Regions from separate parts of the Homo sapiens genome. Here region 1 is linked to region 2. Evidence: fine-mapped expression QTL. Tissue or cell type: whole blood. Region 2 holds a variant in brackets; the other region holds the start of a gene. All regions are shown on one strand. Distances are from middle to middle.

Region 1 (8,000 bases), 200 kb after region 2:
CACAGTCATCAAGGTAGTTTATAAAGGCCAGTACTGCCTACATAAGGTAGAGATTGACTTTCCTTGATGGGATCAGGAAAGGCTTAACGGCTTAACACAACACGGTCACCACCACCACTAAAAAAAAGTTGGGTTTTGAATGAAGAGTTTGTGAGAAACATGTAACAAAAGTTTATATTCACAGCTCTTACATGGTCATCTGCTGAGTGTCTTTACGGCTTACACAACAAAAGAGCTTAGTAATGTTACTGATTTTTTAAAAACCTAATACTTCCAAATTATTGCCTTAAAATCACCTAAAATGATCTGAAAACTAATGATTTATTCTTAAGATCTGCTAAAAATGGATATAGAAACCTCAGATTAAGAACTGCTAAAGTTGGTGGGGTTTTTTTGGTAAGATGCATTGACAATATGATGTCACACTTCAAAAAAATACAACAATCTTTTGAACAATTCCAATTTAAAAACTAGTCAATTCCAGAGAATGCTTTATTGTAATAATATTTCAGATTAACAGGATGAAACCATATGATTTTCAGTAAGTAACAGATTAAATCTATTTTTCAAACACAAAAATTCTATTTCCAAAACACATTTTAAAGAAAAACTCTTGAAACAACCAAATAGTCATGTCATATCACATCATACAAAATGAAAAATACCTACCTCATTTGCATCAACCACAAGTAAAACACCCTGGCAAGCAGAAAGTGACCTGGATACTTCATAACTAAAATCAACATGGCCCTGAGAAACAAAAATATTGATACCTGTAAATGTGAGTTAATTTTTTAGGAAAGAGCATTATGGCAAATTTATTGACTTTACTTGATAAAAGCTGTTAAATATTCGTTTCTTTTTTGTAGCCTGCACTTTTGAAACAACTGACACTAACATAAGAACACTGAGAAAACAAAAAGCAAAGGCAGATGTTTAATACTCAGTTCAAAAATTAAACAAGGATCTGTTTGCACTACTGACACAATGTTGACTTTAACAATACATGCAAAATTAATATTAAACTTACCGGTGTATCAATGAGATTTAAAAGGTACTGCTTTCCTTCACAATTGTAAAAGAGAGATGCTGTCTGTGCTTTAACAGTGATTCCTCTTTCTCGTTCCACTTGCAATTTATCAAGAACCTGCTTATTATTCTTTGTTTTATCAATTGTCCCTATAAACAGAAACACTTATTGATATTTCTCTGGGCTTTAAAAAAAAAAGAGAATATTACTTATAAAATTAAAATTTAAGAGTAAAAGTAATTCCCAATAACTCGCAGCCATCAGTTAAGTATGTAACATAAATGAAATACCTGTAAGTTCTAGGAGCCTGTCAGCTAAAGTACTTTTGCCATGATCCACGTGTGCAACAATACTGAAATTTCTAATATTTTCAACAGGAAACCTAGACATGTCAAGTTTTTCCTAGAAAGGGGAAATACCACATTTAGGAGTATAAATTTGGCATACTATCAAACAAGTATACCAATTCAAAGAATATTCTTTTAATCGTTGAACAATATCATTTCTAGCATTTATATTGTTTATATTATTATTCTAAGAAAAAGACATGTATGGCTAAGTTCATATTACAAGGAACATCAGTTTAATAGCCAAAGGTAACTATACAGCTAAATCATAATCCCTTAACATTTCTACACAATTTTTAGGGCCAATCAGGAACTGAATTTATTATCGTGAATGGAGAACATGAGACACCTAGAACTTCTAAAGGCCTGAGAATACCTTGTCTAGTAAAACTTTTGAGGCAATGGAGCTACAGAAAAGCTGAAAGAAGATAAATTTTCTGCTCCTATCACACATTTAATCAGGAATCAGATTTATTTAAAAATCTGTGTCTCTAATGGAGCCTCAAAATTTTATTTTAAATACAATTTTGCTACTTTGCAGCTTCTCTGGTGAGAAAGAAAAAAAGATGACATCCAACAAAAGACTTATCACTTAAAACTTAAAAATATTTTAAAATGGAACTCCTGGTTTTTCGTGTACACATCTTCTTTAACGTTTTACTGAAACACATCACAAATTGCTAGAAATTGTTATCAAGCAAAATATACCAGTTTTTTGTACTCTATTTTTTTCCAATCAACTGCATATTTCACAATCAGCAAAACCATGAAATTACAATGAAATATAAAATTCACGTGAGCTTTGTTTTTTAATAGCCCCATAAAGACAGATAATAAAAGCACAATTATAGCTGAAAGTCTGCCGAAAAAAAACTAATTCTGATGTTTGCCCTGTAGATTTTCTTTCCCTTCAGTTCAAAAGGTATAGAGAATTGCACCATCTTTATACTTCGAATTGCAATATAAATCCATTTTTAAAAACACAGGCATATTAGGGCCAAAGTTGATTAATTTAAGGTTTTGTCTTTCTGCCTACTTATAGCTTGCCTTCAGTCACTTCACTTTTCTGACTAAAATGTATCCATTCACAATTATCAGAGTTGTTGAACCTCCCACCCTCTCCCACCAGAGTCAAAATTACACAGGTTTGCTCTGGCTGAGGTAGAATGAAATAAAACTACAAAGACAGACCGAGAACTTCCTGCATTCTAGGTATTAGTCTAAAAAAGTCCACTTCTCACATCACACAAATCTCACAAATTAGCCACTGGATGTTTGATCAGTTCTGCATTCAACAAATGAAGTAGGAGAGTGACAATGTAGTAACTTGCCCAGGCCACATAGCTACTTAATTTGCAGGAAAATGGACGTTATATTAATATTTACTAGCAACTTGCTTAGTAGGCTTTTTAGAATTAAATAGATGAATAAACGCAAAGCACTTCGACCAGTGGCTCGCGTAAACAAATCAACATTTGACATTGAAAATGAGAAAACCTACAAAGTTAGTGACTTGCCCAAGGTCACACTAGTGAGGAGTGGAGGGTCGGGAACCTGAGCAGTGCTCACACTCTCCGCTCTGCCTCCCTGTACCAAGTTGCAAGCAGGGTTCAGAGCTAGTCCCAGAAAGCCCTATACATGTCCAAGATCGCATGGGGCACTCCAACGTTTGAAAACTTGGCTAAATCAGATTCCAGGGGGCAGTCACCTTGAATTCTGCGGAGCTGTAGAGCCTGTCGGTAGCCCAGGACTCTGGAGCAGCCCCAAGGGTCGGCGCGGACCGGGGCCCCGGGGCCACCAGAAGCGCGGCCCCAGTGGCTCGTGGCGCGAGAGCGCGTGCGCACCCCCAGCCCCGACCCACGAGGGTCCACATGACCCGGGCGGCGGAGGCGTCAGGAGAGGGTACCCACACGCAACAGCAGCATAGCCCGTTTTTTTTCGAAGGTACCCCCCGTAGGATCCGGTGGACAGGACTCAAACAGATCCTGTGAAGCGAAGACAATGAACCCCGGGGAGCTCTGCCCAAGTACCAGATCCGGAAGCAACCCGAAGCGGCGGCGCAGCTTGCCGACGTCTGCACGCCGCACGCTGTCGTGACATCAGCGCGTCTTGGCGCCGGGTAGTGGAGTGGTCACGTGAGTGGAGGCTTTCGATTGACTCCCTAAAACGCAGGGTGTAGACAGAGTACATATTAGCTTATATTGTCTGCTGAGTGCTGTGCCAATTCCTTTGCATTGTCTCTTTCTTACTACTGCCCTGTGGTGTGTGTACTGTCAGTTCCCCCAAACTACCTCTGGAAATCCGGACCGAGTGACTTGCCCAGGAGCTCACAGGTGGGGAGCTGTGGAGCCTGGAGTGCCGCCCAGGCAGTCTGATTCCCGAACCAGGAGCCGAGGTCTTAGTCCAGGGACTTAAAGATGCTATTATTAGCACAACGTTGAGACTTAGCCTTCTACCTAATGGCAAAATAATAATGGCACTTTTAAAATCTGGAGGTCGAAATGTATTCCCCATGTTGTCAGTGACAGAGCTAATCTTGAAGTGCATCTGAAAGGAAACGGGCCATAACATTGATTGCAATACTGAATCCAGGAAGGTTTTGGCAAGAAGTAAAGGTGGGAAAAAGTTCCATGCTGGACCCCCAATGTTTCCATCGTCATCAAGTTACCACTTCATGGAATGAGCTCTGACGAAGTAAGAATGGGGGATAAAACAGGTGATAGGAGGATTGCATCCAGTGTTTGTCTCCCACTATTTCTCTTGCGCTTTTCTGGAATATCCAGAATTTGGTGCGAAGGAGGGAGATGACAGCTGTGTTCAGTTCATCATTGTGACTGAAGACAGAATCATTCGTATTGTTTCCAGAGCCTTTGAAAGTTTCTTCATTTGGAGGATTTCTTAGGATCAAGAATTCTGTACCAGACTCAGTTCTTTCTTGGATTTTTTTTTCCCCCCTGAGATGGTGTCTCGCTCTGTCGCCCAGGCTGGAGTACAGTAGCGCTATCTCGGCTCACTGCAACCTCCGCCTCCTGGGCTCAAGCGATTCTCCTGCCTCAGTCTCCTGAGTAGCTGGGATTACAGGCGCGCGCCAGCAATCATGGCTAATTTTTGTATTTTTAGTAGAGACGGGGTTTCACCATGTTGGTCACGCTGATCTCGAACTCCTGACCTCGTGATCTGCCCACCTCGGCCTCCCAAAGTGTTGCGATTACAGGCGTGAGCCACCGCGCCTGGCCCTTTCTTGGAACTTTTATGAATTAAAACAGTACTTGATAGACGACTAATTCTGTCACACTTGTAAGAGAATGAATTTAACAACTATCTTGAAGTAAACACAATAATTTATATTCAATGTTGCCCAGACTTCCATAATTTGCACAATTACCCTCATTAATTTTCACCATATCCTGTCAAAGATAAAGGCAGACACCAGTTAAAGTGGTGAAGACAGATTTTTATTATAGTGATATACTAATGCAATCGGGAATAAGATCCAGAATGAACTAAACTACAATTTGTCCAGAGGCGACTGTATTTTAAAAGGAGAATGCGGGAGTAGGGAAAGAGAACAACTGGGCTTGATCAAAGTCAGGGAAACGGAAATTTACAAAAAACAATGGCGGAAGAATGGTCCATTTGAAATCCATCTGGGTTGTAAACTGTTGCTTATGGAAATAAGGCTCCTACCCTTCCCGCAGACACTAGGAAATGAGTGCTACTTTCACATGTTGGCTGGAACAAATAAATTATTTTGTCAGTCTTGAGCTTTCTCAGACAGAAATTTAAGGGGGCTTCATCTTAGAGATGCAGCCTTGAGCTGTTATAAACTATATGAGTTTGTTCAAGTCTTTTAATGTGTGGGCAAACCGGTAGGGGAAGGATGTGGATGAAATCATTTGTGCTGAGGGTCTGTAGTTTTTATAGGCAAGTTTGAGGCTTTGCTGATAAGAGGGCTTAGAAGAGTCAGGCTAGAGTTTGGTCAAGAATCTTTGTCAATCCTCATACCGATATTATGTACTTTATATTTTTCTTTAACTTACCTTTATATGTAAATGAATTCTTTTTAAAAGAAAACGTAGATACCATTAATGGAGAAAGCATGATGAGCTGTCATAAGAGTAACAGTAAATATAACTGTAGTGAATAAAAAATGTGATTCAATTGTAGGTTTGGTCTGTCTGGATTACAAAAGGGAGATTAGCAGATATTAGAAAAGAATTTAAAAATATTAGCCTCAAACTGAGATTTTTCTCTTTGACCTAGCAAGAAGCATTTAAATAGGGTTGAAAGAAAAACTTTATCTGAATAACACAGTATCCTTGATACCATGTCTGTATCTATCTTGGTGCCTCCACAGGAATTTGTCCCACACTTTAGAAAACTGCAGTATCTTATAAGGCTGACATTATGTTTCCCAGCCTACAAATGGAAAAACATATTTGTTAGAAAAATACTGAGCTCCACTGTGTCAGGTTATATACTAGCTGTGGAAACTCAAACAAATTAAGCAAAATGTCTAAAATTACATGATAGATAAATTACATGATAGATAAATGCAAAAAAAAATTTGAATCCAAATTTTTGGAAACTAAAGCTCATCTCTTGCAATATCTTTGCACAAGTTTCTTTATTATTCAACTTGAGAAGAAGCAGGAGGTATAGTGACTGAACTTCAAAGAGGAGGTATCTTTCATGTGCTTCGAAGGATAGGCAGTTTTTTGTTTTTATCCAAGGAAATAAATGGAACTTAAGCAGAGGAATAATCAACAGCATAACACATTTTCTCAGTTCCCAGTACTATTCTACATACTTTGTATCAATTCATTCGATCTTCACAGAGCCCTCTATTGCTGGCACTCTTATTATCTCTGTTTCATAGATTTCCAAGAAAAATGTGGCCAACGTTTTTTAAATAACTGTCTAGAGTCACAGTTAGTGATGAACTAGGGCTGTGAGTCCACACAGTCCAGCTGTAGAGCCTGCACCCTTAACCACTCCAGTAAACTCGGCTCAGCTGAGCAAGGATACAAATGCGGAAAAACACACAATAAATTGGGTTAATAGTCAGTAGAGAACAGGGCCAACATTCAGGACAGTAGCATTTTATTTGAGGCGAGGACTTCTGAAGAGCTTAAATAATTTACAAACTCATAAATCAAGACTCAGTTTTTCTGTAAAAATAAATATATAATATGGAGATTGCACTCATATAGTACATTAATCCACAACTATTGTATGGTTTCTATATTTGTAAATATACCGAAAGGAATATGAGTTTGCTAGGGCTTTCATAACAAAATACCACAGACTGACTTGGTGGCTTAAACAATAGATATTTATTTTCTCACAATTCTGGAGGCTAAGAGTTTGAGATCAATGTATCAGCACAGCTGGTTTCTTCTGAGACCTCTCTGTTTGGCTTGCAGATCAGTACCTTCTGCGTTCTTACAGGGTCTTCTCTCTATACATGTCTGTGTCCTAATTTTCTTATCAAGACTCTAGTCATATTTGATTTGGGCCAATCCTAATAATTTTAAATTAATTATTTCATTAAAGACCCTATCTCTAAATACAGTCTCATTCTGAGATATTGGGGGTTTGAACATCAACATATAAACATGGAAGTGTTGACACAATTCAGCCCATAACAAAAGAGTAATAAAAACAATGTATAAATAACTATCACCTCTAAATTCTGTTTCAAAGTTATTGATATTGTGGAGCATTTCTAGCACTAAAAATACCATTAATAAATGATTAAAGTAGTATCACATTAGCCATTTAAAGCGCTTGCACAATTTTAGAGCATAATCACACAATATTAACAAAGGTTCTCTAGTATTGCTGCTAGGCTGCTAAAATGGTGCCACCATGTGTCTACAGTATAAAATACATCTTTCAATTCACTTTTGAGGCCCATTTTTAAATTATTCTAAGTTTTTTAGACTTTTATATTTTTTCAAATTTTGAGCATAAAAATTTGATCTTTAGAAATATTTTCATATCACAAAATAGAAAGTGTATAGGGTAGAGGAGGAATCATAGAAAGAAGAGTTTGTATCACTTTGTGAAGGGCTTTGAACAGGGACGTACTAGTTAGCATTTCACCATTAATCTATGCAGAAACCATCGTAAGGAAGGAAATAACAGAATTTTTTGCTCTAGGGGGCTTTCTCTAACGATGTGTAAAATGAAAAGAAATCAAATGAGGTGATGAGAATGAAAGGGAAAGAGAGTTTTTTATTTTAATAATCTAGGTAAGACAGGCCGGGCGCGGTGGCTCACGCCTGTAATCCCAGCACTTTGGAAGGCCGAGGCGGGTGGATCACGAGGTCAGGAGATCGAGACCATCGTGGCTAACACGGTGAAACCTCGTCTCTACTAAAAACACTAAAAATTAGCCAGGCATCGTGGCGGGCGCTGTAGTCCCAGCTACTCGGGAGGCTGAGGCAGGAGAATGACGTGAACTCAGGAGGCGGAGCTTGCAGTGAGCTGAGATTGCGCCACTGCACTCCAGCCTGGGCAACACAGCTAGACTCCGTCTCAAAAAGTAATAATAATAATAATAATCTAGGTAAGACACAGTAGAGTCCTGGGTAAATCAGTGGCAGAGAATGAAGAGA
Region 2 (8,269 bases):
TCCTGCAGAGTGTTTTCCAACTTGGTTCCATTCTCCCCGTCACTTTCAGGTACACCAATCAGATGTAGATTTGGTCTTTTCACATAGTCCCATATTTCTTGGAGGCTTTGTTCGTTTCTTTTTATTCTTTTTTCTCTACACTTCTCTTCTCATTTCATTTCATCATTTCATCTTCCATCACTGATACCCTTTCTTCCAGTTGATCGCATCAGCTACTGAGGCTTCTGCATTCATCACGTAGCTCTCACACGTTGGTTTTCAGCTCCATCATGCCCTCTAAGGACTTCTCTGCATTAGTTATTCTAGTTATCCATTCTTCTAATTTTTTTCAAAGCTTTTAACTTCTTTGCCATTGGTTCGAATTTCCTCCTGTAGCTTGGAGTAGTTTGATTGTCTGAAGCCTTCTCTCAACTCGTCAAAGTCATTCTCCATGCAGCTTTGTTCCATTGCTGGTGAGGAGCTGAGTTCCTTTGGAGGAGGAGAGGCACTCTGATTTTTAGAGTTTCCAGTTTTTCTGCTGTTTTTTTCCCATCTATGTGGTTTTATATACCTTTGATCTTTGATGATGGTGATGTACAGATGGGTTTTTGGTGTGGATGTCCTTTCTGTTTGTTAGTTTTCCTTCTAACAGACAGGACCCTCAGCTGCAGGTCTGTTGGAGTTTGCTAGAGGTCCACTCCACACCCTGTTTTCCTGGGTATCAGCAGCAGTGGCTGCAGAATAGTGGATATTGATGAACCACAGATGCTGCTGCCTGATTGTTCCTCTGGAAGTTTTGTCTCAGAGGAGTACCTGGCCATGTGAGGTGTCAGTCTGCCCCCTACTGGGGGGTGCCTCCCAGTTAGGCTACTTGGGGTCAGCGACCCACTTGAGGAGGCAGTCTGCCCATTCTCAGATCTCAAGCCACATGCTGGGAGAACCACTACTCTCTTCAAAGCTGTCAGAGAGGGACATTTAAGTCTGCAGAGGTTACTGCTGTCTTTTTGTTTTCTGTGCCCTGCCCGCAGAGGTGGAGCCTACAGAGGCAGGCAGGCCTCCTTGAGCTGTGGTGGGCTCCACCCGGTTCAAGCTTCCCGGCTGCTTTGTTTACCTAAGCAAGCCTGGGCAATGGCGGGCGCCCCTCCCCCAGCCTCGCTGCCACCTTGCAGTTTGATCATGGACTGCTGTGTTAGCAATGAGTGAGACTCGGTGGGCGTAGGACCCTCTGAGTCAGGGGCGGGATATAATCTCCTGGTGTGCCATTTTTTAAGCCAGTTAGAAAAGCGCAGTATTAGGGTGGGAGTGACCCGATTTTCCAGGTGCCATCTGTCACCCCTTTCTTTGACTAGGAAAGGGAACTCCCTGACCCCTTGTGCTTCCCAAGTGAGGCAATACCTTGCCCTGCTTCAGCTCACACATGGTGCACTGCACCCACTGTCCTGCGCCCACTGTCTGGCACTCCCCAGTGAGATGAACCCGGTACCTCAGATGGAAATGCAGAAATCACCCATCTTCTGCACCGCTCACGCTGGGAGCTGTAGACTGGAGCTGTTTCTATTCGGCCATCTTGGCTCCTCCCTGACTGTAGTTCTTTTGAACACTTGTCACATTTATGGCATTCAATAAATCACACACATATATACATAGCTTTGAAGAATCAATGAGAAAAAGATAAACACGCCAATAAAAATAGTATATAAGCAAAATTCATATAAGAAATAGAAATGGTTAGGAAAAAATATTTCAACCTCAGTGGTCATTTATGCCAATGAAAGCAATACTAATAAAAAAAAAACCTTCCTTTGTTTTATGCCAGGTACTACACTAAGCACTTTACACATATTGACTCATCTAATCTTCATGACTTTTTGCAGCATATGATATAATCCACTCTCCTTTTTTGTTTTGTTTTTTACAATTTTTTTACTGTTTAATTTTTGTGGGTACATATTAGGTGTATATATTTATGGAATACATGAGATGTGTTGATATAGGCATGCAATGCATAATAATTACATAATGGAAAATGGGGTATCCATCCTCTCAAGCTCTTTTGCAGAGGAAGGACCTGTGGCACAGAAAAGGCAAGTAATTTGTCCAGTGCGATGTGGTAATGTTACAGTAGTTAGGCCAGCATGAGTGGGGCAGGAAAGGGCTCTCCCCTCACCCACTAGGAATATCAGGTGATGCTTTGACAATTATCACACTGCCTCTCTAAAATGATATTTGGCAACCCACCCAGGGCACCAGGAGAGGCCATTTCCTGATAATTCACAGCTATTAACATTAAAATGTTAATTGAATGCAGATGCCAGGGAGAAAAAAACTTCCTGGGCATGTGCACTAAGAGACTAAATGGCAAAGTATGACCTTCTGGGTGTACTCCACTGAAAGAAGGAAGAAAGCTTCAGATGGGCACGCATACAACTTCCTAAACACACTACACATGCTCAGTTCCCAAGGATAAGGAGGGCACTGCACATGTGGGAAGCCCACCCTAAGGGAAGAACCGTGGAAAAGCAGTGAGCCTGTAAAGCCTTAGGATCAAGGTTAAATGCTCTCTTTGACCTTCAGGCGCCCTCTTGGATCTTTTTTCAAGTAAACTTTCCTTTCTTTCTTGTTCTAAAGTCTTATTAAATAAACTTCCACTCCCGCTCTGAAACTTGCCTTGGTCTCTTTTTCTGCTTTATGCCCCTCAGTAGAATTCTTTCTTCCGAGGAGGCAAGGGCTGAAGTTGCTACAGACCAGCATACATATGCTGCCAGTAACTGAGGGTAACTCTGATCTCTTGCGCCGGTAACAGTAAGTCACAAAGCTGACATGCAAACACAGATAGTTTGGCTTCAGAGCCCGAATAGTTCACCTAAGAGTATGTCATTTTGCCCACATGTTTGATAAATATATGTTCAATTATAATATTCAGAAAAATATAAACGAATATTTTCATATTGGATAAAAATGCTAAATGTCAAGCAAAAGAGTTAAAGAAAAACATTATAAAAATCCTCAAAGTCCAAGCAATTTAGTTTGATATTTTGTCGTAGAATAGAAAAGGATCCATTTTGGTTGAATTACTTTAATCTCACCTAGTATCTCCATCCCTTATAGTATCCATGACAATCTCATTGAGACTATAA[G/T]TATCTACATCTTGGCACACTGAGAAAGTAGCAGAAAAGGGGAAGATTACTCTCAAGCAGAGAATAGAAATGAACACAAAAGAAAAATTTCCAATTCAATGTAAATGTGGTTTTATGTGAAAGGTTAAAATAAATTCACCAACTCAATGGGTAAAGGTGTGGCTTGTTTGGAGATTCAGGTAACTCTTGGGTATACATGCTACACATAATTATCAGTTGTCCTGTTAATCATGACATTCAACATTCCGGGGATACTTTGTAATATTTAAAGTTTGAGTAACAACTTTGGACTTGGGTAAATAGGAATACTCCTAGGACATCTACATTTCTGGGTTATGTTTTGTTTTGAGTTTTAAAGTACAACTGCTGTCTTCACTTCAACCATAAAGCAAATGACAACAAATAAAAAAACGGATCCTTGAATTTTTTCTTACCCTTGGAAAAATTTGCCTATCCTGGATGTGATCATTGTTAGCTAATTTGTCTAACATTTTGTTTGAGAGTTATTATCTAGTAGTTAAATTTCCTGCAGCAGTTACACAATAAAAAGGTTAATTTGTATAATTTGATTAGACAATTTGAAAAATTAATAAAATAGACCTTTCATACCTCCTAATAGAGAAAGGCAACTAAAGAAACTATTTTGCATTATTTTAACCAAATATAAAATGTGGTTACAGGGGACAATATAAAAACATAAATCACTTTTTTTTGTCTTGCCAAAAGTTGTAACTTTGACATGAGGGAAGTTTGTCTTCACTATTTCGTGGCAAATAGACAAAACAAGCCACACCTCCTTGACCTTTGAGCTTTCCAACTAAAAAATAAATTGCCAACAACAAGCTGATAGCCATGTGAGGAGCAATACAGAAAATAGGCCCATAGTTAAGATAGAAAATGTGGATGTAAGTCTTTGAACTGACACTTTTTTTCTCTGAAGGCTTTGCCAAGTCATTTAACCTGGCAAGATCTCTATATAAAATGAGCCCAACTAGTCCCTGTCAAATTTCCAGAACTTTTAACCCAAACAATGAAGTAATTATCTCGAGAGAAGAGAACAACCTGTACTCCTTTCATCTATTATTGAAAATACAAGAAAATGTGGTCAAGGGATCTTCTTGACTTTTTGAGAAAATGCTTTTCTTCAGTGTTTTCGGTTTGGTGATCACTGTGAGTTACTCTATAAGGTTTTAATCCTCTCAACTGCCTTATGAGACCTTGAGCAAGCTACTTAACCTCTCTGTGCTTTAATTTGCTTCTGAAAAATAGATGTAATAATTGAACATCCTCATAAGGTTGTTGTGAGGAGTCAATGTGTTAATTAATAAAAAACTTTTAAAACAACTCTGCACATATGCTAAGTGATCAATCGAAGTTAACTCTTAGGCGTATTAATACCATTTTACAAATGATAAAACTGAGGCTTAGAGATGTTAATTAACATGTCCCAAGACCAGAGTTTGGAAATCGTAGAAGTAGGATTTGAACCCAGGTATTTTGTCTCCATAGCCCAAATCCAAGCACTGTCCTGTACTGTTTTCCTTTGAACATCCTGAATTAGGTAATGAGAAAAAAATGTTCTGTTTACATATTTATTGATAGAACACAGAGAGTACATACATAAGAAGCTACAAATTATTATAACAGATAATATTTAAAAGAAAATAAGAGACCCTTAAATTTGTTATATAAAAGAAAGGCTGAGAAATCATATTTTCACAGTAAATATTGTAGTTGCACAATTTTCCTTGTTACTGGTAGAGAAGCATCCACAGAATGTGAAGAGGAAAAGCTACCATAAATCAGAGCTGAATAATCGATCCAAACCATGAAAAAAATGCCAGCAAGCACTAAACACATTTGTCTGCAAAGCTTTAATAAATGTAGTTTTATAAATACTATGCAATATAAGGTATAAATTATGCGGCTTTCTTTCAAAAATTAGTTTAAGTGCAAGCTGGAAGAATTCCCTATGCTTAGGCTGATATAAAATTCAGTAAATACAGAAACTTTGAAGGACAAGAAAATAATAATAAAGACTTCTAAAAGGTTATATGAATATTGTAATTATCTGTGCATAAATGAGAACATTTTATCTTTCTATGCCGAAACAGAAAATGAATACCAAAAAAAGTATGCCTGTGGGAAAATTACTTCCAAAACCATTTTGAGAAATTGAACCATTTTCTATATACAAGTACTTAAACATTCAAGCTAAAACTTGGAATAAAATAACATTGATTTTATTATAAATACTTTAATATTTTTTAAAAGTTTATATTTCATATATAAAATTATATCTTAATAAGTGGAGTGTAGGTTCATAAAGCTGACTTCAATAGAGACTTTAGCTAATGATTGAAAACAAGATTTATATTGGAAGAATTAAGGGTTAAAATGGAATATGGACATTTAGAATAAAGGCTTAATGGATTGAAGTTGGTCAGGCTGGGATATAAATTCCTGCTCTATTTCTAAGAACAATATTAATGCCTAAATTAAGAAGGATACATGCGTAACTGAGGTCAGAGAATTTAAAGAGCAGGCAAAGTTGTTGCTCTGAAACATGACACGAGTCAACCAATATTACCCACATCTACAAAAACTGGGCAGATAAAAGAGCCATCTCTCTAATGGAAATTACTAAAGAAGCCTTACATTGCAGATGCAGTCTGGAACCTGGAACTCTGCAGAAACACACTTCAAACCCATTCCTTACAACTGGGCTTCTTCCTGCAACACCTACAGCTTATTTTTAAGTACACAGCTACATGACACCACGGGATAAATAAACTATTAAGACAATTGTATGCATAACATTTAACAAAATAATTCTTATCATAGAAAATGAGTTGCATTATACAAAGGGATGAATCTATTTGGAAAAATAAGTAAAGTCCAGGGATATATTAGATATAATAAATATCTAAAGTCCCGGGAGAATCTGGAATCACAGATGTCTCAGAGGGGTGCAACAAATTGGGCTCTATTTTCTTCAAATGAATATCAGGAGATATTCTGAGAAATGCATGCAGCCTGCTAATGAAATAAATATGTTCATTTTCCTCTCTGCCTTCCTAACTTTGGAAGTGGTCTAAAATCTCCTGCACACAGTAGGCATTCAATAAATGTTTGTTAAATGAATAATTCAATTAAGAAATCCATATTAGCTTACTAAAAATACAAAATTGAAAAAAAACACAAGGGTTTCAGTTGGAAGAAATTTAGAGATTTTAAGCCAATTCACACACATAACATATTAGACTCAGAAAGGTAAGGAGACTTGTTCCAGGTCATTCAGCTAATTTGTGACCAGGCACTTCCACCAGAAATCAAACCTCAACTCCCAATTTAACCAGAGACACATGTAAGCAGAATTAAAATTGTAAAAAAATCCTGGTTGAATTATAACATATTAAGGATTTGTTAGTAGGTTCACATCAAGTGAAGGTTATTGATTATGAAATTAATATCCTGTGTTTCTACAATGCTCTAAAGGCAGTGAAAAGAACTTCGAAGAAGTATAGCGATTTGGTTTTAGTCCTGATTCTGCCTGAGTATGCCTAAGTGATCCTCAGTTTCCAAAGAGGTAAAATAAGGGATCTATATAAATAATACAGTCTAATTCCCCTCCAAAATTTTATTAAGTACCCATTATATCTCATGTGCCAAGCCAGATACTGAGGATACAAAGAGACATAAAGTGCAGGTCATGCTGTGAAAGGCTAACATCTGGTAGAGGATAGCACATAAAGCTTTAATTCAGACTTTGTGCTGGACTCCTGGCTCTGCCATTTACTAACCGAATGACCTTAGGCACTTATTTTTCTTGGTCTCAGTTTCCTCCTTTGTAAAATGGAAACAATGATGATAATATACCTAATTTATAGAGGTATAAGGACTATGTTATTATGTATATAGTACTCAGAATAATGCCTGTTACTGTTCCATAAATAGTAGCAGTTTTTAACCACATGGAATCTATAATATAACATGGGAAATAAGAATATATATGTAACTATAATTAACACAAGCTAACATAATGCTAAGTCACCAAAGCAAAGCATAAAATGTGGTCATAAGAATTTTAGGAATCACTTTATTCCAACAAAATAAAAGACAGGAATTAATGGAAGCATTTTTTTTTCCTTTGAAGAATATAATGATTAGAAAAGAAGAAGGTGACAAAAAAGGCTGAAAAATTATCAGGATGAGTTATGAAAAATGACTCCTGTATTTAGAAATGTGATGGTCTCAAAGTCATTTTCAAGTTTTTGAAAAATCCATTCCTATGGAAAAGAAAGGCAAACTATGTAATGTTTGCATATTGAAAGAAGGGGAGAAAATATGAACAGTAAATATAGAATACACTTTTAATTAATGTATTCATTCACCCACTCACTCACTAGTTAATTCAACAAATAAGTGAGCCTACTGTGCACAATATCCTCAGCACTGTGGCAAATATCTATCTGAGGTGTCCGCCCCTCAAAGGTAGATGATCCCTGTCTTCCTGGATCTTAGCATATAGAAAGGAGTCCTCAGTAGAGGGAATACCAAATGTCAAGGCCTTGAGAAGTCTAGTATTAATGTAAATAAAAAGAAAAGACCAAGTTCTAAAGCATTCTAAAGCATAGCATGCTTGATGTTCAGTGAACATCAAGAGGTAGAGGAAGTATCCCAGGAAAAAGGAGAAGTGTGCTAATGTTAAATATGAGTTCCCACAGAACATGGTGGAAGGAAACAAAAGGGGAGAGGCCAGGATTTATTGATATGGGGTACAGTAGAAGGTGATAAATGTTGGTAGAGGAAGGTGTGAAGGAAGGAATGAAAAAAGGGGACACAACCAGTAAAGATCTCACTGGGCTTGCAGTGGCAGAACAAGTAGGTTGCTGCTAGTAAACAGAATTCTACTTGGGGAATCCCTGATATTTGTTCCTGTTCTTTGATTCTGTGATTCTCTCAAAAAAAGAAATGCAATTGAACATCTTAAAAATTGAAACAACATGTGTTTCATTGTGTGTAATTAATGAGCAATACTCTGTTCTTAAGGTGTGGCCTTAGTGGTTCATTTGAATTTATGTGCGTCTGGCTTCTGTAATTAAACAGAGCTGCTTAACCTCCATTGTCAAACCAAAAGCCTCGAGAGATTT

What was found. PIP is the estimated chance that this variant, and not a neighbour inherited with it, causes the effect.
Region 1: it holds the start of GUF1, and the variant in region 2 is fine-mapped to the expression of GUF1 in whole blood (INTERVAL, PIP above 0.99).

Annotation. Positions count from the first base shown.
Region 1 is chr4:44,673,873-44,681,872 of GRCh38, reverse strand. It overlaps GUF1 (GTP binding elongation factor GUF1), which reads right to left and starts at 3,453. Exons shown (of 17, transcript NM_021927.3): 1 at 3,086-3,453; 2 at 1,321-1,432; 3 at 1,031-1,179; 4 at 670-750. The coding sequence starts at 3,250. RefSeq lists a silencer at 3,115-3,274 and an enhancer at 3,346-4,234.
Region 2 is chr4:44,872,750-44,881,018 of GRCh38, reverse strand. No RefSeq gene overlaps it. Among named protein-coding and RNA genes, the nearest start is that of GNPDA2, 150 kb to the right of the region's middle. The variant G/T (reference allele first, on the strand shown) is at 3,117.